4 separate regions of the Homo sapiens genome follow, and regions 1, 2 and 4 are each linked to region 3. The links come from fine-mapping of genetic effects on gene expression. A gene starts in region 3. Each other region holds a variant in brackets. All regions are shown on one strand. Distances are from middle to middle.

Region 1 (7,362 bases), 38 kb after region 3:
CGTACCTGCAGCCCAGCTTGTAAGTTTAGCCGGGAAGCATCTGAGGCAGGCAGTGGAGGACGCACAGGGGTGAGCGGTTCATCTCACAGGTGTGGCTGGGTGCCTGCTACAGCTTCAAGGCATCAGGTGGGGCAGAAAGGGACAGGCAGGGTGCCCAGGAGTGGCGGAGCTGGAGGAAGGGCACAGCCCCAGGGCAGCTCCCGAGGAGCTCAGTTCTCACACCCCAGGTGGTCACAGAACACATTTCAGCCCCCAAATTGAACAGGGCTGTGTTCATTTTTTCCTTCCCCCAGCTCATCTTATTGCTTGTGTCAGCCTGGGTGAAAGGTTATTTATAATAATATTCTCCTGTCTCATCTGGGCAGCTTCTGCATGGAAGGTACCGAGTTAATAACTTTGCATGCGTTATTTTGTTCAAGCTTCACAGCAATCCGTGAGGTAGGTATTGTTTGTTGTTCGTTTTGCCCATTTTACAGATTAGGAAACTGAGGCCCACAGGCGTAAGCAACCCAAAGTCACACCGTTAGAAGGCAGTGAGATCTGAATGCTCAAGTCAGCATGCGCTCTTCTTCCCTCTCGTTTTCTGCATACGTGCTTTCTCCACGTCTCCCATATCGTAAGGGCATGGCAGGAGGAGAGGGAAACTGATGTGATGGTGGATGGCAAAACATTTTAGTGGTTCCAAGAATCAAGCCCCCTTGTGTATTCTTGGCTTTCAATGAACTGCGTCTTCAGAGCAGCGCAGGTTAAACCACTTTCTCGCCTCATTGTAGTCAATTGGCTTAGTTCAGCCAGAGCCAGGTCTGGCCCACCATGTGTCTGGACTGTGAGTGCCTTGAGGCTCAGTGTGACGCGATCGTAGGGTGAGCCTGGCCGGGCTGCAGCCAGCCACCAAGCCAGCCCTGGGCTCAAAGAGCAGTGAGGCCATTTTGAGAGAGGAATGCTCCCTCGTGCAGAGCCTGTCTCCACCTCCATGAGACGGGAAGGAACAGTTGTCTTCTCATAAAAGCATCTGGCGCCCATGAAACCTGGCACCTCGCTTGACCTCCGGCTAACGGGATGCGGCAGGGTGCTGTGGAACTAATGGAGTTCTCTTCTTCAGCCAGCAATTAGGGGTTAATTATTAGCAATTAGGGGTTCGCCACATACCCCGTGGACCTGCTGTTCCTTCCCAGGACACAGGTCACTTGTCATTCTCTGTGTTAGCAACTGAAACCGTCTGCCTTCTGGGTCCCCTGTTAATCATTGCAGCAGGGTCCCCACGAGTCTGACAGCAGGGTTGCGTTCTGTGCGACCTGTGGCATCCCTGGAGCTGCTGGCTGCTGCGCTCGCCCCACTGGGTGTGGCGGCCTGCCGCCCGGCTCTGTGGTGCTGGTCCCCTGCGGTCATTCTCAGCGTAGCGCCTGGACTGCCCCTCAGCCGCGGCTTGGCTCTGCAGCCAGCGGGACAGGCCCGGTGCTCAGCTCCCGATACTTAGCATCCTGCGGTCAGCTCCCCGTGCTCAGCATCCCGTGCTCCGTTCTGCTCTCTCCTAGGCGTTACTACAAGGAGACCTCTGGCCTGATGCTGGACGTTGGTCCCTACATGAAGGCGCTTGAGGTACCAGCCCTGGTTCTGTCCCAAACTCTCTTCAGACCTCAGGGCACCTGGGACTTTTTGGGTCTTTGTTGAGAAGAGGCTGTGCTTAATTAACGTACAAATGGCCTTTTGGGCTTCCACAAAGGCTGCCTTCCTATTCTGGGCTCCCCTGGCCGGGCCCTCGGGCCCTCAGGCCCTCAGCTGTCCTCCTCCCTCCCCATCTCTCCCTTCCCATCCTTCCCATCCTCCCCATCCTCCCCATCCTCCCCATCCTCCCCATCCTCCCCATCCTCCAGTGGGCGCAGCCCCCCCTGCCCGCCGTGGACCCTGCCGCTCTCCCAGCTGCTCTCTGCCACACTCCTCTCGGGCTTGTGGCTTCTGTATCAGTGCTGACCACCGCTCTCATTCCTGACCCTGGGCATCTGCAGCACCTCAAGCTTGACGGGTCCTCACTGGCCTCCTTCCTGACTTCCCCTTCAGTTTCCAAGGCCATCTGTGGCCAGGCCTCCGGGTGGGGCTCCCCTGGGTCCACTCTGGCCCAGGTCCCATTAGCTGCCCCAGGTCAGCCTCACATCCCGTCCCATCCTCACAGCTGCAGCCCCTCCTGCCTGCCTGCCGTCAGGTGGGAGGGAGAGGCAGACGAGCAGATGGAGCCCTGTGATGAGCTGCGAGTGGGCAGGGGAGAAGAGGGGGAGAAGGGATGAGAGGACGGAATTGCAGGCGAGTGAGCAGAGCACTGCTCTGCTGGCCCTTGGGAGCCCTGTAGTTTTGCCAGCTCTTGGATGCCTTCTGCTGTGGGTAGGCCTTTGAGTGGATGGCAGGGTGCCTGGTGCTAGGGGACCTGAGTGACCCGGGCAGCCCTTTCTGGAGTTGTGAGGCTCCTGCCTGTGAGATGAGTTCTCAGGCCCACAGCATCCTGCTTCTTCAAGGCCCTTGACTCTTGGGGGCACATTTGGGACAGTGTTTCCGTGGCTGGGCATACACCTGTTCCTTGATCCCAAACTTATGCCATGTCCCTCTCTCTTTTCCCAGTATGCCTGTGGCATCAAAGCCGAGGTGGTGGGGAAGCCTTCTCCTGAGTTTTTCAAGTCTGCCCTGCAAGCGATAGGAGTGGAAGCCCACCAGGTAGGTTGGCGCCTTGTGAAGTGGGTCAGGGGAGGC[A/AGCCCCGTCAGGGAGGCC]GCCCCGTCAGGGAGGCCCTGGAGCTTGGAATGGATTACAGGACTCAGGCAGCCTGTGGGGTTGGCCAGGCAGCCAAGCGTGGGCTCCCTGTGAAAGCTGACCTGGCTGGGAAGGAGGGGGAAGACAGCAAACGAAATCCACTGAATAGTTTCAACCGTGAAGTTACTTTCAGTATGAAAGCAAGAAGCAGAAATGCCTGCGGCTTTTCCTGAGTTTTTGCTGCTTCTCTGAAAGGATAAGAATTGACAAGTCCTATCAGTGTGTTAATATATCTCACTGGCAAGACAGTGTAACAGCAAGATTACAACAATATGGAGGAAATAATAAAGTCACTCATTTTGCGACCTTTATATTTTGACTATTTTGGGATAGATTGCCTTTCAAACTTCCAAATTTTAGAAAGGAAAAAGAATCGGTTATGATTTTATTGTCTACACCTACCCCAACCCTAAGTGAGTCTGGCTTCGTCCTCCAGTGGGTTTTCTTTTCTTTTTCTTTTTTTTTTTTTTTTTTTTTTGAGCCAATGTCTCCATTTGTCACCCTGGCTAGAGTGCAGTGTAGTGGCACAGTCATGGCTCACTGCAGCCTGGACCTCCCAGGCTCAAGCGATCCTGCCATCTCAGTGCCCCCTTAACCCCCTTACTAACCAGGCCCCCCCCCCGCCAACCCCAACTGAGTAGCTGGGACTACAGGTATATGCCACCACGCCTGGCAAACTTTTTTTTTTTTTTTTTGAGACAGAGTCTCACTCTGTCACCCAGGCTGGAGTGCAGTGGCGCTGTCTCGGCTCACTGCAACCTCCACCTCCTGGGTTCAAGCAATTCTTCTGCCTCAGCCTCCTGATGAGCTGGGACTACAGGTGTGCACCACCACACCAGCTAATTTTTTATTTTTAGTAGAGACAGGGTTTCACCATGTTGGCCAGGCTGGTCTCAAATTCCTGACCTCAGGTTATCTGCCCGCCTTGGCCTCTCAAAGTGCTGGGATTACAGGTGTGAGCCACCATGCCCAGCCCCGGCTAACTTTTGTATTTTCCATAGAGATGGGGTTTTGCCATGTTGCCCAGGCTGGTTTTAAACTCCTAGCTCAAGCCGTCCTCCTGCCTCGGCCTCCCAAAGTGCTGGGATTACAGGCATGAGCCACCAACACACAGCCCCCTCCAGCAGGTTTTCTGAAAGATTGTAAGGAATAGTGGGCAGCCGGCATGGAGGCTGACGCCTGTAGTCCCAACACTTTGGGAGGCTGAGGCAGGTGGATCACTTGAGGTCAGGAGTTTGAGACCAGCCTGGCCAATGTGATGAAACCCCATCTCTACTAAAAATACAGAAAAACAAAAAAAATTAGCTGGGCGAGGTGGTGCATGCCTGGTAATCCCAGCTACTTGGGAAGCTGAGGGATGAGAATTGCTTGAACCTGGGAGGCAGAAGTTGCAGCGAGCCGAGATCATGCCACTGCACTCCACCTGGGTGATAGAGTGAGACTCCTTCTTTAAAAAAAAGAAAAAAGAAACAGAGTCCACAGCTGCCCCAGGCTGTCCTGCTGCCTCCTCAGAAGTGGGCAGCAGAAGCATGGGTTGGGGGTCCCTCAGGTGTCAAGCCTGGTGCATGTTTCCCCTGTGTGCATTTCGGTCCAGAACACTGGTGCCTCATGGTGCTTTGAGAAAGATGGCCCAAAGCTGCCAAAATCTAGACACTGCACCTGCACCTGCCCTGAGATCCATAGAGATGTCAGAAGATGCAGGCTGTCTGGAGTCCCCAGAAAACACCTGGGAAATGTCACATTAGTCTGTTGAGAAGGAAAGGTTTGTGTTTTGAATGAGTGAGAACTGCAGCAATAAATAACCTGGCTTTTTACTACCTTGCTTCATAGGGCAGAATTTCTTTTTTTATTAGAGATTTCAAACATACAGAAAAGTAGAGAGAATGATACAGACACCCCATTATATCCATCATCCAGCTTCAGTGGTTAAGATTTTGCCACATTCCTTTCTTCTATCCTCTTTTTTTTCCTTTTAAAAAATTTACTGGCTGGGTGTGGTGGCCCACGCCTGTAATCCCAGCACTTTGGGAGGCTGAGGCAGGTGGATCACCTGAGGTCAGGAGTTCAAGACCAGCCTGGCCAACATGGTGAAACCCCGTCTCTACTAAAATATAAAAATTAGCCGGGTGTGGTGGTATGCACCTGTAATCCCAGCTACTCAGGAGGCTGAGGCAGGAGAATTGCTTGAGCCCAGGAGGTGGAGGTTGCAGTGAGCCGAAATTGTGCCACTGCATTCCAGCCTGGGCGACAGAGTGAGACTCTATTTCCAAGTAATAGTAATAGTAATGATAATAATAAATTTACTTATTTTTTTGCTTCATATTTTAAAGCAAATCTCAATTGTATCCTTTCATGTTGTAGCATGACATTTAAAAATCACGATTTTTGGATGTAAATACAATACATTAAAACTCCTAACATGGCCAACAGGCATACAAAAAGATACTCAATATCATCATTCATCAGGAAATGCAGATCAAAACTCCAGTGAGATACCACTTCACACTAAGATGACTGTATAGTTAAAAAAAAAAATAGAAAATAACAAGTGTTGGCAAGGATGTAGAGAAATTGGAACCCTTCTCTATTGCTGCTGGGAAGGTGAAATGACAATGCTGCCACGGAAAGCCACTTGGTGGTTCCTCAAAGTTAAACATAGAATTTGCCGTATGACTCAGCAACCCATTTCCAGGTCTATACCCAGAAGAACTGAAACACGTGTTCAAACAAAAACTTGTACACAGATATTCATAGCAGCTCCATACACAATAGCCAAAAGGTAAAAAAAGCCAAGATACCTGCCCATCAACTGATGAAAGGATAACCAAATGTGGTATGTCCATACAGTGGAATATTATTCAGCCATAAAGAGGAATGAAGTTCTGACACATGCTACAGTGTAGATGAACCTTGGTAGCATTATGCTAAGTGAAGGAAGCCAAACACAAAAGGACACATATTGTATTCTTCCATGTATAGCAAATGTCTAGAATGGGCAAATCCATAGAGATGGAAAGGAGATTAGTGGTTGGCAGGGGTCGGGTGCAGGGGAATGGGGAGTGCAGCTTCAGGGTACGAGGTCTCCTTTTGGGATGATACAAATATTCTGGAACTGGGCCGGGCACAGCAGCTCACACCTGTAACCACAGCACTTTGGGAGGCTGAGGAGGGTGAATCACTTGAGGTCAGGAGTTCGAGATCAGCCTGGCCAACATGGTGAAACCCCGTCTCCACTAAAAATACAAACATTAGCCAGACGTGGTGGTGTGCACCTATAATCCTAGCCACTCGGGAGGCTGAGGTGGGAGAATTGCTTGAACCCAGGAGGTGGAGATTGCAGTGAGCCGAGATCGTGCAACTGTGCTCCAGCCTGGGCGACAGAGCCAGACTCTGTCTTAAAAAAAAAAAAAAAAAAAAGAAAAATATTCTGGAACTGGACAGTGATGATGGTGGCACGACGTTCTGAATGTGCTCGATGCCAGTGAATTGAATACTCTGGTCACGGTCATAAATTTTATGTAATGTGTATTTTACCACAATAAACATTTTAAAACCACCTAAAAAATTAACAGTGATTTTTGTTAGTATTATTTAATAGCAACCCATATTTAAATTTCCTTGACTGTCTCAGAAATGCTCTTTTACCGTTGATCTGTTGGAATCCAATCTGAAGAAGCTCCGTGACTTGTGTGTCGTTTTTATGTTTTCTGAGCCTCTCTTTTTAGCCCTCCATCATAGAACATTTGAAATATCTATGTCAGTAGAGAGGGCAGCTCAGGGAACTCCTAGGTACCCATCACTGTGCTTTAATAATTATCAACTAATAACCACTTTAAAATTGTTTTCAACTTTTCATTTTGAAGTAACTTGACACTCACAAAAAGTTGCAAACATAGTACAAAATGTTCACGTGTACCGTTCAGCAGCTTCCCCATCATCATCGAGCAGTGATAAAACCGGGAAATCAACACTGGCACAAGGCGGTTAGCTAACCTAGAGAGCTTATTCAGACACCACCAGTCATCCCACTCATGGCTTTCTGGGGACACGTTGCATGTAGCAGTCATGACCCTAGTGTCCTTTATCTGTGAACTCTGATCACCTGTTGAGGAGGTGTCTTCCAGAGTTCTCTACTGTCATTGCTATTTGTCCCTTTCAGTAATTATCTTTTTTTTTTTGAGACGGAGTCTCGCTGTGTCACCCAGGCTGGAGTGCAGTGGCGCTGTCTCAGCTCACTGCAAGCTCCGCCTCCTGGGTTCACGCCATTCTCCTGCCTCAGCCTCCCAAGTAGCTGGGACTGCAGGCGCCCGCCACCATGCCTGAGTAATTTTTGTTTTTGTATTTTTAGTAGAGATGGGGCTTCACCATGTTAGCCAGGATGGTCTCGATCTCCTGACCTCGTGATCTGCCCGCTTCGGCTCCCAAAGTGCCGGGATTACAGACGTGAGCCACCACGCCCAGCCTTTTTTTTTTTTTTTTTTTTTTTTGAGCAGGAATCTCATCCTGTCACCCAGGCTGGAGTACAATAGCATGATCTCAGCTCACTGCAACCTCCTCCACCTCCTGGGTTCAAGTGATTCTCC
Region 2 (7,362 bases), 30 kb after region 3:
ACCTAGCAGCGAAATTACTGGGTCATAGGGTACATGTATGTTCACCTTTGTAAAATTCTGCCAGACCTTTTTTTCAGAGGGATTGCAATATTTTACACGTCCTCCATCTGCTGCAGCTGTTCAGTATCCTCACCAGACCTTGGTGTTATCAGTCTTTTTAATTCTCACCATTCTGGTGGGTATGAAATCGTATCTCATTGTGTATTTCAGTTTCTTTCTTTCTTTTTTTTTTTTTTTTTTGAGACAGAGTCTCGCTCTGTTGCCCAGGCTGGAATACAGTGGTGCAATCTCAGCCCACTGCAACCTCTGCCTCTCGGGTTCAAGTGATTCTACTGCCTCAGACTCCTGAGTAGCTGAGATTACAGGCGGCCGCCACCGTGCCGGGCTGATTGTTGTATTTTTAGTAGAGATGGGATTTTGACCATGTTGGCCAGGCTGGTCTCGAACTCCTGAACTCAGGCGATCCGCCCACCTTGACCTCCCAAAGTGCTGGGATTACAGGCATGAGCCACCGCACCTGGCCTCAGTTTCTTTTCAATTTAGAAAGGTCAACATCTAGTCCTAAGAGAGATGACAGCATGTTTCTTCTAGGATCTGAAAACACAGATCCAATGATTTGATGTATCCTTGCAAATTTTCCTATTTTAATTTAAAATGGGGGAAGACAAAGAAGGAGAAGGAGGAAGAGAGTTTCCTAAGGGAGCTGGTGAACTGGACCTGTGGGGATGGAATTCTGCTTTTTCTTCAGGACATATGTGTGGGGTTGCCTGAAATGTGTCAACGGTTCTTACAGTTTGGGACCAGTAGTGCCAACCCTCCAAGGCTTGTGCAGCCCCATTTCCTCCTGCTGCAGGCTCTCAGTGTCTTCTGAGCAGATTTCCCTTCTCAGTAGCAAAGCTGTGGGTTTCCTGCCTGCGATAGTGACCTCAGGGAGCTCCTGGGGCTGATGTGGTATTGGGATGGAGGGTCCTGGGTGTGTCCACCTTTCTCCTCATAAGCCCTCTCTGAGGAGCCGAATTCCCTCCTCTGTCAAATAGGAATAACCCTTCTGTGTCTACCTCCCATGGCAGCTGTGATGATCAGAAAGAAATGCATCTGAGAAAGGGGGAGGACATGTGAAAGGTGTCCCTGGTAGGAGATGGGGAGGTAGGCCATGTCCTCCCAGGGCTCCGTGGCACTCTGTCTCTCTCTCTCTTTCCAGGAGTCCGCTCAGAATTTGATCAGATCGACACATCCAACCCAAACTGTGTGGTAATTGCAGACGCAGGAGAAAGCTTTTCTTATCAAAACATGAATAACGCCTTCCAGGTGCTCATGGAGCTGGAAAAACCTGTGCTCATATCACTGGGAAAAGGGTAAGTTGGCTCCAGGGAGAGTCATTTCTCGGTGCTTTAGATGATGCTGTGCCAGTCTCCAACTTGCGGAATCAGGCAGAGAAGGATGCAGAAGGGGAGGTGGGAGGAGCACCGGTGATCTTCTTTTCCCTCCCTTTTTCATGCTTTCTCTCTTCATTTCTTTATTCCTCTCCTTTAATCATTTCTTTAGGAAATAGGAACACTGTCTTCAGGAGCTGGTTGATCAAGCTTCCATGTGGAGTCTAGACTAGAAGAGGGCGTCATTGCAGAGGGAGACCCTCTGGAGATCTCAGAGGCCAAGTGTTGATTGTCCCAAGTTTAGAGCAAAGAAGGAGAAGGTGCATTTGCATAGGATGTAGCAGGGTGTTGGAGAATGCTCTCAAGGGTTGTCTAATTAGTAAAACATAGGCTTGAGGGCCTACCCAGTCTGGGCACCGACAGTCTCTGGCCACAGATCACTGTCTCTGTGAAGTTGTGATTTTGTGATCAGTGTTTTGTCTGAGCCTTTAGCACATGCCTTGCCATCTCTTTCTTAAACAAAACAGTGTTGGTTATTTTTAACATTTTTCTTACACTGAGATAGCACATGTTCATTGAAGAAAAATTAGACAATACAGATGAGCAAAAGAAGAAACCAGAAAGTATTTTTAGTCCCACTGCACGAGGAAAACACCTGTCCCTATTTTGGTGTATGTCCTTGCAAGTGGCTTCCTGTGCGAATAGACTATTATGGATGGAGATGTTCACAGCATCGATGTCACACTTGACCTTGTTTTGTCATCTGTTTTTTATTGTTCACCAAACAATATTTGTGACTGACTTAGCATGCAGCAAATGGATATGTCTTGGGGCATGGTTATCTATGGTGTGGCTATCTTGTATATATATATATTTTTTAAGACTGAGTCTCGCTCTGTCACCCAGGCTGGAGTGCAGCGGCGTGATCTCGGCTCGCTGCAACCTCTCCCTCCCGGGTTCAAGCGATTCTCCTGCCTCAGCCTCCTGAGTAGCTGGGACTACAGGCGCCCGCCACCATCCCAGCTAATTTTTATATTTTTGGTAGAGGCGGGGTTTCACCATGTTGGCCAGGATGGTCTCAATCTCCTGACCTTGTGATCCGCCCGCCTTGGCCTCCCAAAGTGCTGGGATTACAGGCATGAGCCACCGCCCCCAACCTCTTGTAATTTTTTTCTTTTTTTTTTTTTCTGCTTATAAGTTTATTCAATGCAAAATAACCCTCACCAGTTTTACTGAGGTGGCTGACCATGTCCACGACCAAATACGCCTGTAAACTGAAATTCGGTTGCTGACCCATTCCCAGCCTCAGCTTTCTCACTGGCACCAGGGGGACAGCACTCCATCTGTGGGTGTCTCTTTCTCTCTATGGCTGTCTGTCTGTGGGTGTCTCTCTCTGTCTGTGGGTGTCTTTCGCCATCTGTGGGTATCTCTCTCTGTCTGTGGGTATCTCTCCCATCTGTGGGTGTCCATCTCTGTCTTTGGGTGTCTCTCTTTGTGAGTGTCTCTGTCTGTGGTTGTCTCTGTCTGTGGGTGTCTCTCTGTGAGTGTCCCTGTGAGTGTCTCTGTCTGTGGGTGTCTCTCCTCGTCTGTGGGTATCTCTCCCTGTCTGTGGGTGTCTCTGTTGGCTTCCCCACTTGTGGGTCTTGCAGGTCGGTCACGCTCCAGACCTTTAGGCCGCAGCCTGCCAGTCTCCAGACCGCTGTGGCATGGGGTAGCAGACACGCTCTCCAGGGGCAGATGGTGGTAATCGCAGAGATTCTGGATCCCCATGTGGGTGAGGTACCAGTAGAAATGTCTCCAGGCAAACTCCTTCCTGCAACCTCAGGACCTGAGAGACTGCCTGGCCTTCATGACGTGAAGGTTGGGCACATTCTCATCTGCCAGCTCCGGGTCTTAGGCAGGTGGACATTCTTCTTGGCTACCGTGACTCCCTCCTTAAAAAGGAGTTCATAAATAGCAATCTGGTTCTTCTTAGGCATCAACATCTCTGCAGCTGTAGGGTCCAGGTCCGGGGCTGGAAAGCATGATTTTTTTCTAACTGATCTCTGCTGATGGCATCTAGATTGTTCCTGGTTTTTCACCATACCAGGGCTGTGATGAGCATCTTGGTGCATTTCGGATGACGTCTCCAGATACAGTTACAGAACGAGTATTTTTGAGGTTCTTGAGGCATGTTGCCAAGTTGTTTCCAGAAAGCTGCACAGACTTATTCTGCACAGCCTAGAATTCTAGAATCACAGGGTTCTGCACAACCTAGAGTTCTGGAATCACAGGGTTCTGCACAGCTAGAATTCTAGAATCACAGGGTTCTGCACAGCTAGAATTCTAGAATCACAGGGTTCTGCACAACCTAGAGTTCTGGAATCACAGGGTTCTGCACAGCCTAGAGTTCTGGAATCACAGGGTTCTGCACAGCTAGAATTCTAGAATCACAGGGTTCTGCACAGCCTAGAGTTCTGGAATCACAGGGTTCTGCACAGCCTAGAGTTTTGGAATCACAGGGTTCTGCACAGCTAGAATTCTAGAATCACAGGGTTCTGCACAGCTAGAATTCTAGAATCACAGGGTTCTACACAGCTAGAATTCTAGAATCACAGGCTCCCAGGGTTGCAAGGACACTTTGGAGTGTCTACCTCAGCATCTCATGAAGTGTGGGAATTCCGAGGCGGTGGCGGAGGAAGTGTTTTCCATCTTCGGTGCTTTCGTTGCTTCTGGTGACAGCGCTCACTGCCTCTGCTTGCTGTACGGGACCAGCTGATGGAACCGACAGGGAGGGACTTTTTATCTGGCCATTGGCCACTGCCACACACTTTGTGTACCCCGTTTTGTGTAATTCTGACTACAACCTTGTGGGATCTAGGCAGGTCATTGCTGTTTTGCAAGTGGGGTTGTTGAAGCCACAGGAGATGAAATAAGCTGCTGTCCCCCAGCCATTGAGTGCTGATAGGATCAGGAGTGCCAGTTGGTGTGGCTGACCCCAGACCCTGTGCGTGTTACCTCTAAGCTACATTCTAGAGCAGACTTTTTGCCCACACAAGCCTTAAATGTGGGCTGGGGACAGTGGCTCACGCCGGTAATCCCAGCACTTTGGGAGGACAAGGTGGGCAGATCACCTGAGGCCAGGGGTTCAAGACCAGGCTGGCCAACATGGTGAAACCCTGTCTCTACTAAAAATACAAAAATTAGCCAGGTGTGGTGGTGCGTGCCTATAGTCCCAGCTACTCGGGAGGCTGACGCATGAGAATTGCTTGAACCTGGGAGGCAGAGGTTGCAGTAAGTCAAGACTGCGCCATTGCACTCTAGCCTGGGCGACAGAGCAAGACTCCATCTCGAAAAAAACAACAAAACCTTAAATGTATTTTTGAGGCTGTGTTTAAAAATGGGGATATTTTACACAAAATATCCAGATTTCTGGATTCTTTTGAAGAATCAGAAGATCTGACAATACGGAGCCTCACATTCCTGCACACACAGCAGCCATAGCTGGAGCCACTGCCTCCATTAGTTTGAATTTACTGCAGACCCCACTCCTCCCTGTCGTCCCTGTCTCCAGACCACAGAGTTAGTTGTCATTGATCGTGTGCCATTTGTTGTTTTTTTCAAAGTAGAGAAGTACTTCTTCACGCTGTGTCTCTATCAAAAATGGACAAGTGAAAGATGTTTCAAGAAATGAAAAGATTTTTTTAGT[G/A]ACAAAAAATTTCTAGTATGTTTCTCATATAAATAAAATGTGTCCTGTATGTAGTCAGGGTTCCTCAGAGAAGCCCGAAGCTACAGGATATAGATATGTAGAGAGATTGTGGAGGCTTGGCGAGTCCAAAATCTGCAGGGCAGGGCTGGCAGGCTAGGGACTCAGGAATGCGCGCAGCAGAGTCGTAAGGCTGTGTGCTGGTGGGATTCTTGCTCGGGGAAGGTCAGTCTTTGTTCTTGTAAAGCCTGCAACTGGTTGGATGTGGTCCACCCACATTGCGGAAGGGAATGTACTCTCCTCCTAGTTCACCGATTTAAATGTTAATCTCATCCAAAAACACCTTCACAGAAACATCCAGAATAATGTTTGACCACATATCTGGGCACCGTGGCCCAGCCAAGTTGACATATTAAATTAACCCTTGTAGTCCCTTTTTAAACTTACACCCATTGCAATTTAGGTCGCTGCTATGGAGCAAGCCACAGAACCTGGCCTCTTAACTCATTTACCCGGGCTGACCCATTAGGCCTTTGAGTCACCAACACCTCACTAGAGAACAAGCATAATGAAGAAGCTCTGCTGTAATTCGTTAATGTTAACACTTTTTTCTTTAAAGATGTCTCATGCTGAGCTTCGTGGCACACGCCTATAATCCCAGCACTTTGGGAGGCTGAGATGAGAGGATGGCTTGAGCTCAGAGGTTCGAGACCAGCCTGGGCAGCATAGTAAGATTCCGTCTCTACAAAAAAGAAAAGAAAAAAAGTTGTCTCATAATTATTAAAAACCACTATTCCAGATCATGGATAATAATAGTCAGAACAGGTATATTGTTGAAAAAGAAAAAAAAAAACCGGAAGCAGTCGCTTTCAGCTTTGTAATACCGCAGCAAATGTCATAGTAGACAAGGGTTTTTTTAAAGTAGGAGATTAGTGGCGTCTCTGCTGATGGGGGTTCTGGGTGTTTAAAAACCAGAGAAAGGAACCGGCGGTTTTAGGGACTAGGTCCCAGCTTCTCAGGACAGCCTGAGGACCCCCCGAGAGCTGCCATCACCATGCCGTCCTCGGCTGTGGGTCACTGCTGGTGAGGTCCATCCTGCACTGCGGGACACAGGGGCACAGGCTGAGCGGTGCCCACCAAGGAGGCAGGAGCAGCGGGTGGAGGCGCCGGGGCAGACTGTCCCTCTCCTGGAAATGGAGTGATTTACATTTGGCATCTGTTTGGACCCCAGAGTGGGAATTGGCTTTGTAATTTCTTCTGTCATGCCGCTCTCAGAAAATTAAGCTGTTTACCCGACAGACTATGGAAGGTTAACGGCTCTTCTGGGAAAGGTCAAGTGGTCATTTGCAGGGAGGCTGTGCTGAATAATCTGAAACGGCAGAAGAATAAAGCATAAAATCGCATCTGACTCCTCCTCCCGGGCTTCCCCCTTTCTTTCCAGCATCCACGGGTTCCTCTTTGTGGCTAGAACATTCACGTCCTAAGTGGGGCTGCCGTTGGCTGGGTTAAACCAGTAACCAGTAACAGGAGAAATACGTCGCATCTCTAGTGTGTGGAGATTACCGGGCCTTTATATTAAAAAAAAATTTTAAGTGCTTATATTTGCTCTGTCTCTAAAAAATGTTTCCAGGTAACAGTTGGCCTCAAGATGCCTTTTTGTTTTTCTGAATGAATAAGGAATAAAGAAAAATTCTGGGCACTATAAAATCAAGCCCAGATTCAGTTTTTTAAAAAATAAACGTTAAAGTTTCTCATTTTGATTTCTGGAAGTTCGTGTTCTCCTTGGACTCTAAAGATTAGCATGCAAAGACAAGGTTTTGATTGTGTATTTTCAGTTGCACGTTCAGTTTTTTTAAAATCCCATCCAGGACTAAATTTAAACATAAGAAAATCCAGGTTTCTTTCGCTTTCGAAGAGGCTGCAGGGAACTTGAGGCCAGAGGAAGTGGCGCCGCGTGGGTCCCCTTAGGAGGTTTTGCCAGATGATGGGAGGTGCTTGCTCCCGTCCACCCAACCTCTAGCTCCTCCAGCCGGCCCCAGGGTAGCTGAGGGACAGGGGTCTGGGCCCAGAAGCCCCCAGAATCCTCAGCTCCAAACAGAGCTGTACCTGTCGCAATGGAGTAGTTTTGTTGATTTCAGGTTTTCTTTTGTTGCTGGGTAAGCATTTCCTGTGTGGGGTATATTCTTTCCTCCGTCCTGGCTTACTTCCACACATCACTTCATTAGGGAGGCCCTCCCTACCCACCTCGATGCCCTCCTTCTCCTGGCACAGGTGGGCAGGAGGGGACGAGGGTCATGGCCTTTG
Region 3 (7,362 bases):
CTGCCTCCCAGGTTGAAGTGATTCTCCTGCCTCAACCTCCCGAGTAGCTGGGACAATAGGCCTGTGCCGCCACGCCCAGCTAATTTTTACATTTTTAGTAGAGACGATGTTTCCCTGTGTTGGCCAGACTGGTCTCGAACTCCTGACCTCAGGTAATCCGCCCGCCTTGGCCTCCCAAGGTGTGAGCCACTGTGCCCGGCCTGAGAAGCATTTCTGTTATTAATGGTGCTCTGATTTTTTTTTCCACTATAGCCCATCTCAATAAAACAGAAGATTCTTTGGCTCATATGGCCCTCACTTGGTCTGGTCTCACTTTCCAGGGAGATGGGATTTGATAATAAGAAAGGTCTTGGTGACTGGTGGGCACCTGCTACTTTTGCCTATACCATGTTGCTTCCTTATTCCTCTTTCACAGTGCCCTGCTTTTTTGCTTTCTTTTCTCTCTCTTTTTTTTTTTTTAGAGAAGTCTTGCTATATTGCCTAGGCTAGGATACAGTGGCCATTCACAGTTGCAGTTGCAGTCATGTACACTATAGCCTCCAACTCCTAGGTTCAAGTGATCTTCTTTTTTTTTTTTGAGATGGAGTCTCGCTCTGTCGCCCAGGCTGGAGTGCAGTGGCGTGATCTTGGCTCAGTGCAACCTCCGCCTCCCGGGTTCAAGCGATTCTCCTGCCTCAGACTCCTGAGCAGCTGGGATTACAGGCGTGTGCCACCACGCCTGACTAATTTTTGTATTTTTAGTGGAGATGGGGGTTTCACCATGTTGGTCAGGCTGGTCTTGATCTTCTGACCTCGTGATCCACCCGCCTCAGCCTCCCAAAGTGCTGGGATTACAGGCGTGAGCCACCACGCCCAGCTTCAAGTGATCTTCTTGCCCCAGCCTTTGGAGTAGCTGGGACTTCACGTATGTGCTGCCACGTCCGGCTAATGCGCCCTGCTTTTTGCTGGAGGGCTTGTCCTCTCCCTTTCCTTCTGGTCATGGTGGGACTATAGGCAAGTGTCCCACCTCCAGCCCTGGTAAGGGCACCAGTCAGGCTGGAACATCACAGTATCACTTCCATTGGAACACAGACAATGGGGGACACTGACCCAAGAGAGCCAATCAGAGTTCTTTCTGGAACAGCCAGACCAAGTTGAGGAAAAGGATCCTCACCAGGTGGTGTACCGGAGACTCTGTGAGCCCAGAGCTGATAACCAGCCATGCCTGACGCTGTCCATTGCTAGACTATCTGGTTGTGCGAGCCAATAAATTCCTTTAAATTGAAGCCATTTGAAATTTGGCTTCTGTCACTGGCAGCCGAAGAGTCCTGACTATGACAAGCAAATCTGAAAGGATGAGGCATATGTCTAGTATAGCAATAGATGGTTGATAGATTCATAGTTGAGCTGAAATTCAGACATGAGTTGTAGATTTGCTATAACAGGCTGAAAGCTCAGTCAGTGGTGTATGCTTCCTGGCACACTATGGTGTTCATGTGCCACCTGGCTAGCTCTGGCCCAAAAGATGCAAATGAGAGTCCATTGGATCAGGGTTCTGGGAAAGCTTTTGCTTTCTGGGTATAAAGGGTCAGACTCAGCTGTCACATGCCCTTTTTTCTTTTCTTTCCCCTCCTTCCTGCCTGAAATGCAGTCATGATGCCTCGGGTGGAGCAGGAATCTTGCTAGCGTGAGGAGCAGGCCACATGCTGAGAGAGTGGTGGAGCAGAAAGCAGGAGGCAGCCTGATGGTCCTGGGAGCTGTTGTCCCATCCAGGATTTCCTCCCTCTTGGCTTCTTGATATATGAGGAAAAGTAAAATCTGATTTGGTTGGGCAACTATGGCTGGGTTTCTGTTACATGTAGCCAAATGCAACCCTAACATAGACAATGCCCTACACTCATTGCATCCCAAGAAAAGCCTGGAATTTTCAGATCAAGTTTTAGCCTATCAGTGGCCCACACTTAGAGACTTGCCACATTTTTCAGGTGAGGGACCTGGATCCCTGTATTTGTTTCTTGTCACTACTGCAAGAAATTACCATATACTTAGTGGCTTAAAACAACAGATTTATTATTATAGTTCTGGAGGTAAGAAGTCCTAAACTTGAAGTACCAGCAGGGCTGCATTCCTTCTGGAGGCTCTAGGGGAGAATCCAATTCTTTGCCTTTTTTAGCTTCCAGAGGCCACCTGCATTTCTTGGCTCATGGCCCCTTTGTATTCAAGGCCAGTAGCACGGTATCTTCACACCTCTCTCTCTGACCTCTGCTTCTGCTGTCACACCTCCTTCTCTGACTCTGACTCTCTCCTGCTTCCCTCTTTCCCTTATGAGGACTCATGTCATTATACTGGGCCCACCTGGACCATCCAGGATAATCTCCCTACAGGAGCATAGGCTCTGCAAGATCTAAGTCCCTTTTGCCATGTCAGGTAATATATTTAGAGGTTGTGGGGATTGGGAGGTGGACATCTCAAGGGGGCACTATTCTGTCTACTGTAGTCGTAGAAATGAAAAGGGACTTGCCCAAGAGTACCCACAGAGCTGACTGAAAAGAAACAACTATGGGTAGGCTCACACCACTGGCAGAAGCACCCCTTTTCCTCCTCCTTGGCATGAAGCTAAAGCCCAGCCATTCTCCAAGGTCCATTTCAGGCTGCCCCTGCCCAGAAGCCACAGCTGCCCTCCTAGGCCTGCAGAGGTCATCCTCTTGACTGTGTCTGTGTCACTCATTGCCACTTGGCACACATTTGGTCAGCAGTCGTGAAGGTCTTCCATTGTTCTCTGCCCAGTCTTGATCCTGGAAGGCAAGGATCACACCCTAGAACTTTTTTGTGCCCACTGCACAGAGTAGGGTCTCAATACGTGTACGGTTCATGATGTTCCTAGCAGATTCTCCAAACTGACTCACTCAGCCCCTGGAACACTAAAAACTGCATTTCCCAGACTCCTTTGCAGCGTGGGCTAGGTTCCACCAAGCCAGACACAGTGAAAGTGAGTGGGTGGCCACAGGTGGAGGGCACAGTGGTGGATATGTTTTGTTCTTTTGGGGGCAGCTATGCTGGGGGCTGCACTAAGTGATGGGGCAGTGGTCCCAATGGAGTAGTAAAATTAAGTGTTTCTCGTGGCTGCATGGCTCCTGGCTGTGTAGGACTTAGACCCGTCATCTGTAAGCTCCTTCACCTCATGTAAACAAAACCCCTCTAGCTGGAGTGGTGTCTATTGTCTGCGACTAAGAACCCTTATATAAGGTATACTACTCCCCAACCCCATTAGTGGAAATCCCAAAGGGTAGGAACTGTATTTTATTTCACTTGTAAACAGCTCCCCTAGTAAGCATGTCAACAAAATATACACAATTCATTGAACCCCATAACATTTCAACGAATTCCTCATCCTTTCTGTGAATCAAGAGCCTGAAAAGAAATGGTGAAATAATATGATCCTCTCTTCTTTGAAAGCTCAAAGCTATGTTGGACCAGAAGTAAAGTGTTCTCGTTTCTATTTAATAACTTGAAAGGTTCCGAGGGGCCATTGAGGAAACTCCTCCCTTTTAATATCAATGTGTATTTATTGCAAAAATAATGTAGCATCGAGTGGTATTTTATAGCTTATCCAAAAACCTCCTGGGTTTAACGCATTGTGATAGTCCCGTTTTCTTCTCAGCCCAGGTCCTATGCATCCTCATCTATGCAGGGCTGTTATCTGCATATAATTTTTTTTTTTTTTAAGACAAAGTCTTGCTCTGTCGCCCCGGCTGGAGTGCAGTGGTGCAATCTCGGCTCACTGCAACCTCCGCCTCCCAGGTTCAAGCGGTTCTTCCGCCTCAGCCTACCGAGTAGCTGGGACTACAGGCATGCGCCACCACACCTAGGTGATTTTTGTATTTTTAGTAGAGACAGGGGTTTCACCATGTTGACCAGGCTGGTCTCGAACTCCTGATCTCAAGCGATCCACCCGCCTCAGCCTCCCAAAGTGCTGGGATTACAGGCATAAGCCACTACGCCCGGCCTCAATTTTGTATTGTACTTTTTCTTTCTTTCTTTAATAGAGACAGGGTCTCACTATGTTGACTAGGTTGGTCTAGAACTCCTGGGCACAAGCTGTCCGCCCGCTTCTGCCTCCCAAAGTGCTGGGATTGCAGGCGTGAACCACCGCCCCTGGCTACAGGTGCCTTCTTGTCTCAATTTGCCTTTGACCTTTCTTAGGGACTTGTTTTCTGCTTTTCCTGCTCTTTGTCCGCTGATCTCCTGGGAAGAAAGCTTCCGAAAAGGACACCGTTTCAGGGGCGAGTGACGCCGGGGTGCCCAGGCCGCGCCCCAGTTCCGGGTTTGCACCCGGTCTTCTTGCCCTGCCCCGCCCGCGGGACTACAGTTCCCAGGCGCCCCTGCGCGGCCGCGGCGCCGGCGCCGGCGTCGGTTGGGACGCGGAGCTGAGGAGCAGGGCCGGGCGCCATGGCACCGTGGGGCAAGCGGCTGGCTGGCGTGCGCGGGGTGCTGCTTGACATCTCGGGCGTGCTGTACGACAGCGGCGCGGGCGGCGGCACGGCCATCGCCGGCTCGGTGGAGGCGGTGGCCAGGTGAGTGGGCCCCGGGACGCCGCTGGGGCCGCCGAGCTCTAAGCTCAGCCCGCTCCCTGGCTGCCGGCAGGGGGCGGGGCGGCAGGGGGCGGGGCCGCGGCGCAGGCCCCGCCTCGGTCTCCCCCTTCCCACCCCGGTGCGCGCACAGTGCTGACCACGGACGACCCCACTGTTGCCCCCGGCGAGCACCAGGACTCTGCTGGTTAGGGCTGCGCGGTCAGACAGGGCGGCCACCTGGTACGTGCGCTGCTGAGCGCTTGACCTGCGGCCAGTCTGAATTGAGATGTGCTGTAAGCGTAAAATGCATACCGATTAACAAGACTTAGCCGGGCGCGGTGGCTCGCATCTGTGATTCTAGCACTTGCAGAGGCAGAGGAGGGAGGATCGCTTGAGGCTAGGGGGTTGGAGACCACCCTGGGCAACATAGGGAGACCCCGTCTCTGCCAAAAATTTAAAAATTAGCCGGGTGTGGTGGTGCACGCCTGTAGGCCCAGCCACTTGGGAGGCTGAGGCAGGAGGATCGCTTGAGCCCAGGAGGTCAAGGCTACAGTGAGCTGTGATCACCCCACTGTACTCTAGCCTGGACTGCAGAGCGAGACGGTCTCATAAACAAAACCCCCAAAAACACCAGACTTCGTGAGTAAAATGTAAAATAAAAACATGAAAATGGGTTATGTTGTTTGCCTGTTGAAATGATATACTTTTTGTTTGTTTTGTTTTGTTCTTTTCAGATGGAGTCTTGCTCTGTCGCCCAGGCTGGAGTGCAATGGCACGATCTCGGCTCACTGCAACCTCCGCCTCCCGGGTGCAAGTGATTCTCCCCCTTCAGGCTCCCGAGTAGCTGGGATTACAGGCACCCGCCATCATGCCCAGTTACTTTTTTTATTTGTTTTGTTTGAGACGGAGTTTTGCTCTTGTTGCCCAGGCTGGAATGCAGTGGTGCAATCTCTGCTGACTGCAACCGCCGCCTCCCAGGTTCAAGCGATTCTCCTGCCTCAGCCTCCTGAATAGCTGGAATTACAGGCATGTGCCACCACACCCGGCTAATTTTTTGTATTTTTAGTAGAGACGGGGTTTCACCATGTTGGGCAGGCTGGTCTCTAACTCCTGACCTCAGGTGATCCACCTGCCTCGGCCTCCCAAAGTGCTGGGATTATAGGCGTGAGCCACATGCCCAGTTGATAATATTTTTAATATACTGTTTTAGGTTAAAATATTTGAAATTAAGTATACCTTTTTTTTTTAACTTTTGTTAATGTGCTTATTAGAAAACTTTAAATTACCTTTGTGGCTCTCATTATAATTCTGTTGGACTGCATTGGTTTAGGTGAGAGGAGGAGGAAGAGAACATCGTGCCAGCCAAGACTTGACCATGAGGACACTTTTTTTTTTTTGAGACAGTTTTGCTCTTGTTGCCCAGGCCGGAGTGCAGTGGCGCCATCTGGGCTCACTGCAACCTCTGCCTCCCAGGTTCAAGTGATTCTCCTGCCTCAGCCTCCCAAGTATCTGGGATTACAGGCACCCGCCACCACGCCCAGCTAATTTTTGTATTTTTGGTAGACATGGGGTTTCACCATACTGGCTAGGCTGGTCTCGAACTCCTGACCTCAACTGATCCACCTGCCTGGGCCTTCTAAAGTGCTGGGATTACAGGCGTGAGCCACCGCACCTGGCTGACACTTTTCTTTGTATAATTTTTTTTTTTGAGACAAGGTCTCATTATGTTGCCAGGGTGGTCTTGAACTCCTTGGCTCAGGCAGTCCTCCTGCCTTGGTCTCCCAAAGTGCTAGGATTACAGGCATGAGCCACCACACCTGGCCTAATTTTTTTTTCTTTTTTTTTTTTTTTTTTTGAGACAAGGTCTTACTTTGCCACCCAGGCTGGAGTGCAGTGGTTCAATCTCACTGCAACCTCTACCTCAAGGGCTCAAGAGATCCTCCCACCTCAGCCTCCCAAGTAGCTGGAACTACAGGCACGTGCCACCATGCCCAGCTAATTTTTTTGTGTTTTTTGTAGAGATGGGGTTTTGCCATGTTGCCCAGGCCGGTCTTGAACTCCTGGGCTGAAGTGATCTGCCTGCCTCAGCTCCCAGAGTTCTGGGATTAGAGGTGTGAGCCACTGTGGCCAGCCAGAAGGACACTTTCAGTAGCATGGTTGGCACCACTGGACCTGGGCTTTGTAAGGCCTCCTGTTGGCATCCCAGGTCAGCACTGCCATGTGTTGATAGGCAGCCGGGAAGGGCTAACTGCCAGGACTTGGCCTCCCGGAGTCACTAGCTGAGGCACCCTGGCTTGGTAGCCTGATGTCACTGGGACTCAATATACCTATCTGTAGGTGGCAATTAACTGAGTCTCTTGGTCCTTCTTAGAGACCCCATTCTACCAATCTGCATGTCTGATGTCTGGGAGCTGCTGAGATAATAGGGACCCAAACGGTCCCGCATAGTGAAGCCGGAGGTGTTTGGGAGGCTGGGAACTGGGAACAGGGAGACTTGGCTTCCAGGAGCAAGCACAAAGGGCAGCCCAGACCTAGGACACTCCGCTGGGTCCTGGGTCTGCTCTCAGTGTTGGCTGAAGTTCAGGGTTAAGTGCATTCCTGACCTTATTCTCCATTACTCCAAAGCTTTAGACTAGCTCAGTCACAGATGAGAGCATTCTGTGAGTGGCACTGGTGGGAATCCAGCAGAGGGCTCTGGGCAGTGTTTTGGGGTGAAGTGGGCCTCATCTGGGGAGCAGGAAGCCAGAGCTCAATGCTGTGACTGGGGCAGGCAAGGCCTCATGGGAGACCCTGCCACTCATTGCTTGCGGAA
Region 4 (7,362 bases), 140 kb after region 3:
CCAGCCGTAAATAAGCCCCGTTTCCTCCCTGTGGACAGAGACTGGTGGGTGCCAAGGTTCACGGCAAAAACCCTTCCCCGCCAGGCCCCACTGCTCTCTGCCTGGCTGGCACACGCCCTTGCCTCAGGCCTGGCTCCCCGGGTCCTGTTGACCACCAGGCTGCAGATCCCAAGGAATGCAGGCATCTGGGTGGCCCCACGTGGAGCACCAGCCATGGGGAGGCCGTGGGCTACCAGGCCCTGCGTGCACTCGCAGCATGCACCACTCCTTCTCCAGGTCCCGTTGACCTCCATGTGTGCTGTGCCCCGTCCTCCGCTGCACTGCCTCTTCGTAGTGCCCCAGCTCCATCCGGGGGTGGGTGGGAGTGGAGACCCCTGCCTACAGGCCTCCGGGTCTAGCCAGAGTCAACCAGCCCACCAGAGACACCCAGATGCAGGCTATGCCCCACGTGCCCAGGGAGGATCTGCTGACGTGAGCCCAGATTTCGATTCTTGTGCGAGGGAGACGAACCAGGTTTAAACCCCAGCTCTGCCACTTCTGGCTGTGACTTTGAGCATGGCTGTTCATCTCTGGGGGTCTCTCTCCTCATCTCAGAGAAGCAGATCATGGTGCGCACCCCATGGCGCGCTGTGCAGAGCACATAGAGACGCCACCCACAGCTGGCTTACTGCAGAGGTGTGGGCCCATTGTGGTATCGCTGATGTCCTGGAGGCCACAAGTCTGCTAGCTAGAGGAGCCTCACCTGCATCCCGGGGCCTGCCCACTGGCTGGTGGAGAGCTCTGGGTTGTGGGCAGCAGGCAGGCCTATTTCCAGTGAGTCTGTGGCTCCTGGGGGTGTGTGAGACCTTGGGCAGATCCCTTCCTGTGCCTCGGTTTACCCACTAGGGCTCAGAGCCCTGGGGGACTGGCTCAGTGAGTGCCTCCTTCTGCGAGGAGAGACTTTTGTCCTTACTAGCCAGAGGACAGGTCAGCCGGGGCAGGCTCTGGGCCCTGGGCACCACCCACTGGAAGGAAAGGGGGTTCAGTTAGCCCAGCCCTGCCCCCCAATGGAAGAAAATTGGGGTTCAGTTAGCCCAGCCCTGCCCCACCCCAGCTCTTCACACATCCAGATCCAGATGGGGGCCAGACCACCAGGAGACTGTAAGGATCCAAGGCCGAGGGGCAGGAGACGCAGTGCGCCCCTCTCCTATTTCTGGGTTGCAACCGCCCACACATGTGCACACAGGGAAGATGTCTCTTTTGGTTGGGGGGCACAGGACCCCACCTCACTCTTAGCTCTGAGACACCCTTGTCAGGCCTCCTGGACAGGTGGGAGGGACAGGGCAGGGTGGGGTGTGGCCAGCTGCAGTCCCTGGGAGGGGTACTGGGGCTGGGCCAGGCCAGGGCAGGACAGAGTTGGGGAATCCAGGCCCCTCACCATTGCCCTGGCTCTTTGTATGTAGTGCTGCCTGCGGGCGGCAGCCTAGCTGGACACCTGCAGTGCGCTCATGCCCAGCCTCTGTGGGTGTCTGGCTCACCCCACGTGGGAGGAAGGCGGGCACGGGTGGTTTGGGCTGGGCAGGCCCAGCCCGGGTGCACAGCTTTCTCATCCACACACACATTCCATGTGTAGGGGCTCAGGGGGAGGGGTCACCTCCTCCCTCCCCACCCCTCCTTGTTACAGAGGAGCAGATGGCCAAACGGATGGGGGACAAGCACCTGACAGGGCCACTGCTCCTGCTCTCAGCTGGGCCAGTGGGAAAGGGAGCTTGGCACCTCCAAGGGAGGTCCCAGCCAGGGGAAGTGTGTCCCCATCCCTGCTCTGGTCCCCAGGCCAGAGAGGTGAGGGACCCAGAGAGGCCCAGGATGAGGACTCCTTCAGTCCTGGGTTTTTGTTTGGATTTTTTTTTTCTGCCAAGTGACTTCAAAGCCGCCCGAGAAGGTCCTGTATGTGTGAGCAGGTTGGGCAAGGGGAGGGCGGGTCTCCAAGCTGGGAGCCTCCTCGCGGCCCTCGCCTCGGCACTGATGTGGCCCTGGACCCTCCGGTCCCTCCAGGCCACCCTTCGTGCCAGGACCCAGCTGGCTTCAATGGCAGGAGGTGCCCTGGGCTGGAGGGTCCCCACGCTGGGCTCCGGGGCTCCAGGTTGACTCAGCAGTCCCCAGGCCTGTGGGCAGAGCTGGCCTGGGAGGACACGGGCCTGAGGGCTGAGCAATCCCTGAGTGAGAACAGGTAGCTGAGGCTGGAGCCTGTGTCCCCCAGGCAGCTGCTAAGGCCCGGGCCTGGGGCTGGAGTGCTGGGCTCAGGTGCCATGTGAGCTCTTTGCAGGCAGGGACCAGGTCAGAGTCCTTTGTGTGCCTCTTGACCCCCAGGTCCTGGGAGAAGAGGGGCTTGGGAGGCCTTGGCTGGATGCACAGGCTCCATGGGAAGGAGCTCCTGCTCGGGTTTCTTTGTAAGCAGCACGACATGGCACCTTCCCAGAGGTACATGGGTCTGGGCATGTCATTCCCCGACCTGCTTCCAGAACCCAGGGGACGGAGGTCGGAGCAGCCTGCCTGAGATCTGTGGCCATCTCCACTCCGCCACCCAGCTACCCCGTAAGGAGGCCACCGACCCTCGGGCACCTGCCAGGGACCCAGCTCAGGCCAGGTCACGGGCTGGATGTGGGATGTTCTGGGCCTTCTGCCCACCTCACTGGGCCCCAGCAAGCTGCTGTCCTGAGGGTGGCCGTGCTGGGCCAGCACGTGGACAGCAGGGAACCCCATGGGCACAGGCCTAGTGTGTGTGATGTACCGGTGCAGACCATCTGATAAGCAGCCTTCAGAGAAGCTGCGGGTGTGCAGGTGGAGGCAGACCTCCCAGCTGCATCCTCCAGGCACTTGCCAGGGTCAGGCTCTGGTGAACACCCTTCTAGAAATAACCCCCCAGGCCCCCGGGGGTCTTGGGCTCCTGGGGTTCTGATGGAAGGATGCCCCTTGCCCGGCCTCACTACCTCCACCTCATGAATCACCCTCTGTCCTTGTCCTGCAAGTCTGTCGGCACAGCCGAGCTGGCGTCACCCTCTGATGCCAGTGCCCAGATCCCTGAATTCACTGGGCAGCCGCCCCCTGCACCTGGCTCCCAGCCACTGCCTTTCCAAAGCAAATGGGGACAGGGATACCTGCCCCTCCCTGGGTAGGCAGCTGTTGCGGCCTCCAGTTGTGAGAGTCTCTGCCCCACCCTGCCCCTTCCCCTGCCCCTGCAGGGTAGAGAGGAGGCGGGTGGGCCACCGACTGGGAGTCCCGGGCAGCTCAGGTCCCTCAAGAGCCCCTCGGGGAGAGGCCGCACCCGTCTCCCTTGGTCAGTGTTCCCCAGGAGGCGGTGCTGGCCTGCGTGTGCCCTGGAGGAGGCGGCAGGGAGACTGGCCTCATGGGGCTCTTTTGCTGGGGCCTGGCCACCATTTTCCTTCGATTGGTACAAAGACTGTCCCTGTGAAGCTGGCCAGGCCCCAGGCACAGAACCGCCTTGTTTTCTGCCTCTCACTCACCCGTTCCCTGCATTCGGCTGACAGAGCATGAGGGGGAGGAATCACTGATGACAGGCACTGGCCTGCCCAGCTGGGGGCCTTTGTTTATTCATTTGGTGGGCACTTCCTGGGTGCCTGCTCTGGGTCAGGCCTGTGGGGGGGACCACCGAGGGCAGGAAACCTGGCCTGTCCCTCCAGGAAGCGAAGTCAACACTGGCACCTGCAGATGAAGTGGCAGAGCAGCCCCCAGCTTTGATGGCATGGGGTGGTTGGAGGGCACATTCTGCATGCTCAGAAGAGAGAGCAACTCGCCCTGTGGAAGGAGCATACAGTGGGAGATGGGGACAGGTGAGTGGGGTCTTGAAACGTGAACAGGAGTTTGCAGGTGGAGCAGGTTTCAAGAGCATTCCAGGGCACAGCATGGGCAATGGCAGGGAGAGCTGGGATGTCTGAAGAGCAGCAGCCCAGACACTGAGTGGCTGGCGAGGCGAGGGAGGTCCGC[A/G]GGTGGGGCCCAGTCAGGATGGACTCATCTGCCATGCTGAGGAGCCAGGCTATGATGTGGGCAATAGGGAGCCACAGCAGTTTACACAGGGGAGGCGGGAGCAGCTGAGCATTTAGGGAAGCCACTCTGGCTGCAAAAGAGGAGAGGGGGCCAGGCAGGAGGGAGAGCCAGTGGAGGGGGAGGGGGAAGGGGAAGGGAACAGGCTTCAGCAGAAGACCTCCTGCCTTCAAGGGGCCCGGGTCACCCTGTGGGTTCCGGTGGTTAAGGCCAGCCTCCTGGTCCTGCAGCCACATGCCTCCCAGCTGTGTGCCTCCGCTTCTACCTCCGAAACCCGGGCAGCAGGACCCACCCTGCAGGCTCCTGCGCAAGGATGGGGGAGGTACCTGGAGGGCCCACCCCACATCAGAAGCAGGTCCTCAGCCAGAGACGCCCAAATGCAGCCCGAGGGAGGCTGCCCCCAGGAGAGGAGAGGAGAACCCGCAGCCGCCCCGCAGGCGCCTGGGGAAATCACTCACTGCTCCCACCTCCCAGCCAGGCCCCGAGGGCCAGGCACTCTGGCTTAGTGAAGAAGCCACCCAGCAAAGGCCTGGTGTCTCCACACCATTCTCGGGGGGACAGCAGCAAGGACGATGGACGGGAGCAGTGCTCAGCCTTAACGTCCCTGTTTCCGGAAGCGTCCCTGCCCCGCTCAGTCCTGCCCCACTCCCTCTCCCATCAGTGCCCTCAGACTCCAGGCCCTTTTCTTTCTTTCCCAGCAGTGCTGACAACTGTGAGTGTGGAACTGGACTGTGAACCCTGGAGGGCAGATGGTGGAGGTGGGAGGGGGCAGGGCCAGCGCCAGGGTGAGCTGCAGGGTCCCCAGGTGCAGGGGAAACGCCAACTTCGTGTGCAGTCTTGCCTCTTTTGTTTCGTTTCAGAGTGGCCCCCAGAGCCAAGCCCTATGCTACCTTACAGATGAGGAAACTGAGGCTCGGGCAGGTGAAGAGACCGGCCCTGGGCCATGCACTTTTTTGGGGACAGAGCAGGGTGCTCAGCTGTCTGGGGGCCTGGGCTGGGCCTGGGGCAGGGGGAGGAGCAGCGCTGTGACCCCCACGGGGAGCCGTCAGCCAGGCCCGTAGCCAGGGAAGGGCGGAGGGGCTTAACGCAGGCCCACATGGCCAGGACACAGAACCGTGGGGGCAGCCCCAGCCCTTCCCTGCCTGTTACAGGCCCCTGCCCCTGTTCCTGTGTCCCATGCCTGTCCCCTCCCTCCATGTGTCTGTCTCTACTCGCCTGCCCTCTCTCTGCCCTCTTTTCTCTGCTTCATCCTCTTTTTCCGTTTCTGCCTGTCTCATGGTTCTTCCTGTCCCTGCCCTCCCTCCCTCCGTGTGTGGCCGTGTCTCTCTGTCTGTCTCTTCCTCCTCCTCCAGCTCTGTCCCAGTAGGGCCACTCCGGGCAGGATGGTCTGCGGCCCCTCCTGCTTCACCCTCTCCGCTCTGTACCCACTGCCGAGGACACACCTTTGCTGGGTTTCTTGGTTCAGCTTTTGTACCGTGACATCTCTGAGGTCCACAGGTCACAGGGCACTGGCCAGTGTGGGGCAGGGACTCCTCCTGCCCAGGCCATTGGACAAAGCAGAGCTGCTTCAGGGGCTTTGGGGCCACCAGGCCAGGAACAGGTCCCCTCCTGCCTACCCCAGCTCCCTGGGAGACACAGCCCACAGCAGCGTCACGTAATTAAGACATAAAAGTCCACGATTTCCGCTGCGTGTGGGCAAACACCGGCCGGGTGCTAATGCAATCCTTTCTTTTAGTGGATTCTTGAATTTAAATGATATGTAATTAAACATAATTAGCCACGGACGCCATTCGGCTAGGTACACGTGCGGAGTGGGGCTGGCCGGATTCTCATTACAAAGCGTCATCTTCTATGGGGAGACCTCTTGTTCCCTCTCGGGGCTGGTTGCTTTTGCCTGGACAATAAGCCTGGCCCCAGGGCACCTGGGGAAGGTGTCCAAGGAGGGGGTCCTGGGGGCCAGTCCCCCGGGGGCTCGGATGATGAATCATGGGCGGTGTTTGCTGGAAGAATTTTTGTTCCGCTTCGGGCAACAAGGAACCCAAACCTCTCACTGTTGTGGGGAGAAAAGTTGGAAATCAGATGGGAACTGGCTGCGGTACCAGAGAGGACGTCAGACCCGGGCCGCGGCCTCAGCCCCCGACTCCTTGTAAGCGTGGGCTGGGTGCACACGTGGCGGCTGCGAGCAGTGCTTTGGAGCTCATCTCCCCAGACCCTAGTGGGAGCTGAGGGCAGCCTGGCAGGGCTGATGCAGGCCCATGCACACAGGCCAGGCAGAGGTGAGACCAGGGAATAGAAGCGTTGCAGGGGCAGAGGGCAGGAGGGGGCAGAGCCTCGGCGTAGGAGTGAGCCTACTGGTCCTTCCCGCAGGCACCCTCCCTAGTGCCAGGTCTGCTGGGACTCCAGGCTGTTGGTATGCCCCCTAGGGTCCTGCTTGGAGCCTTTCTGACCCTCCTGATCCAGTGCCTGTGCCGGGCTTCCTCCCCACTCACCCTGTCCTCCCTGTGCCCCATGTAGCCCACACATCAGTGTGTCCGTCCGTCTGCCTGTCTGCCCCCCACCAGCCTGTGTGCCCAGGGGAAGGCTCAAGGCCGGTCATGCTCTACCTCCCTGGCCAGCCCAGCCCCAGCCCACGGTGCATTCCCTGGACAGGATTGCTGAGTTTTCCATTTTAGCCACAACAGCGCCCACACCCGCGCCAACCAACCTGTCCTTGCCACGAATATTGGCTCCTGCCCTCCTCATGGGAGCCCATGGTGCATGCTATTATGACCTCGGTCTAGAGGCAGGGACACCAAGGCACAGGGGCTTAGGGAAGTTGCCTGAGGTCACGTGGCTGGTAGGGGGCGGAGCCAGCTTTATCCTCATGGCACAGATGAGGAAACTGAGGCAGAGAGGTGTTTTGCCAGGGGGCTGATTTACTGAGCTAGCCAGCCGTTCTGGTTTTGTCTCTGTCTCGCTCAGAGGGACCCCCACCCCACCCACCTGCCTACCCAGCTTGCCGTGTCCTCGGCCAGGGCCAGCAGTCTCAGAGGTAGAGCTGCTGAGAGAAGCCTGTCATCTGTCCTCCAAGAGGGATCTGAGTAAGCCGGAGAGCATCAGCAGCCTCAAGGGGACCTTGGACCCCTGCCCACCTTTCATTCTGTACCAGGGCAGGGTGTGTCTGCACAGCCTGGAGCCAGGTGTGGCTGGCAGCCCCAGGAAGACAGGGCCAACCCTGCCCAGCCCAGAGCAGCCGCATCTCTGCAGCAGCGGTGCACTTGAGTGGAAGCACTGGCTTCCCAAGAGTAAGAGCTTGAGAAGGGGCCTGTCCAGAGCCCTGGG

Which allele goes with the higher level. Alleles are on the strand shown, and positions count from the first base shown. SD is a standard deviation of normalised expression in the study named. Not every link is listed here.
For the expression in monocytes after LPS of the gene that starts at base 4,389 in region 3, allele G in region 2 goes with a higher level than allele A (small effect, 0.34 SD a copy in Fairfax 2014).
As copies of G replace A in region 4, the expression in hippocampus of the gene that starts at base 4,389 in region 3 goes down (small effect, 0.25 SD a copy in GTEx).

Evidence for each region. PIP is the estimated chance that this variant, and not a neighbour inherited with it, causes the effect.
Region 1: its variant is fine-mapped to the expression of LHPP in thyroid (GTEx, PIP above 0.99).
Region 2: its variant is fine-mapped to the expression of LHPP in monocytes after LPS (Fairfax 2014, PIP 0.95).
Region 4: its variant is fine-mapped to the expression of LHPP in hippocampus (GTEx, PIP 0.99). The same link has a PIP of 0.9 or more in substantia nigra.

The regions. Positions count from the first base shown.
Region 1 is chr10:124,495,426-124,502,787 of GRCh38, forward strand. It overlaps LHPP (phospholysine phosphohistidine inorganic pyrophosphate phosphatase), which reads left to right. Exons shown (of 7, transcript NM_022126.4): 4 at 1,536-1,599; 5 at 2,611-2,703. Among named protein-coding and RNA genes, the nearest start is that of LHPP, 37 kb to the left of the region's middle. RefSeq lists enhancers at 1-352, 353-930, 931-1,508. The variant A/AGCCCCGTCAGGGAGGCC (reference allele first, on the strand shown) is at 2,740.
Region 2 is chr10:124,487,221-124,494,582 of GRCh38, forward strand. LHPP (phospholysine phosphohistidine inorganic pyrophosphate phosphatase) reads left to right here. Exons shown (of 7, transcript NM_022126.4): 3 at 1,202-1,355. It also overlaps the pseudogene RPS10P18. Among named protein-coding and RNA genes, the nearest start is that of LHPP, 29 kb to the left of the region's middle. The variant G/A (reference allele first, on the strand shown) is at 5,062.
Region 3 is chr10:124,457,435-124,464,796 of GRCh38, forward strand. LHPP (phospholysine phosphohistidine inorganic pyrophosphate phosphatase) reads left to right here and starts at 4,389. Exons shown (of 7, transcript NM_022126.4): 1 at 4,389-4,553. The coding sequence starts at 4,429. RefSeq lists a silencer at 4,269-4,728 and enhancers at 6,245-6,745, 6,746-7,246.
Region 4 is chr10:124,601,686-124,609,047 of GRCh38, forward strand. All of the region lies in intron 6 of LHPP (phospholysine phosphohistidine inorganic pyrophosphate phosphatase), which reads left to right. Among named protein-coding and RNA genes, the nearest start is that of FAM53B-AS1, 99 kb to the right of the region's middle. RefSeq lists an enhancer at 4,212-5,156. The variant A/G (reference allele first, on the strand shown) is at 3,985.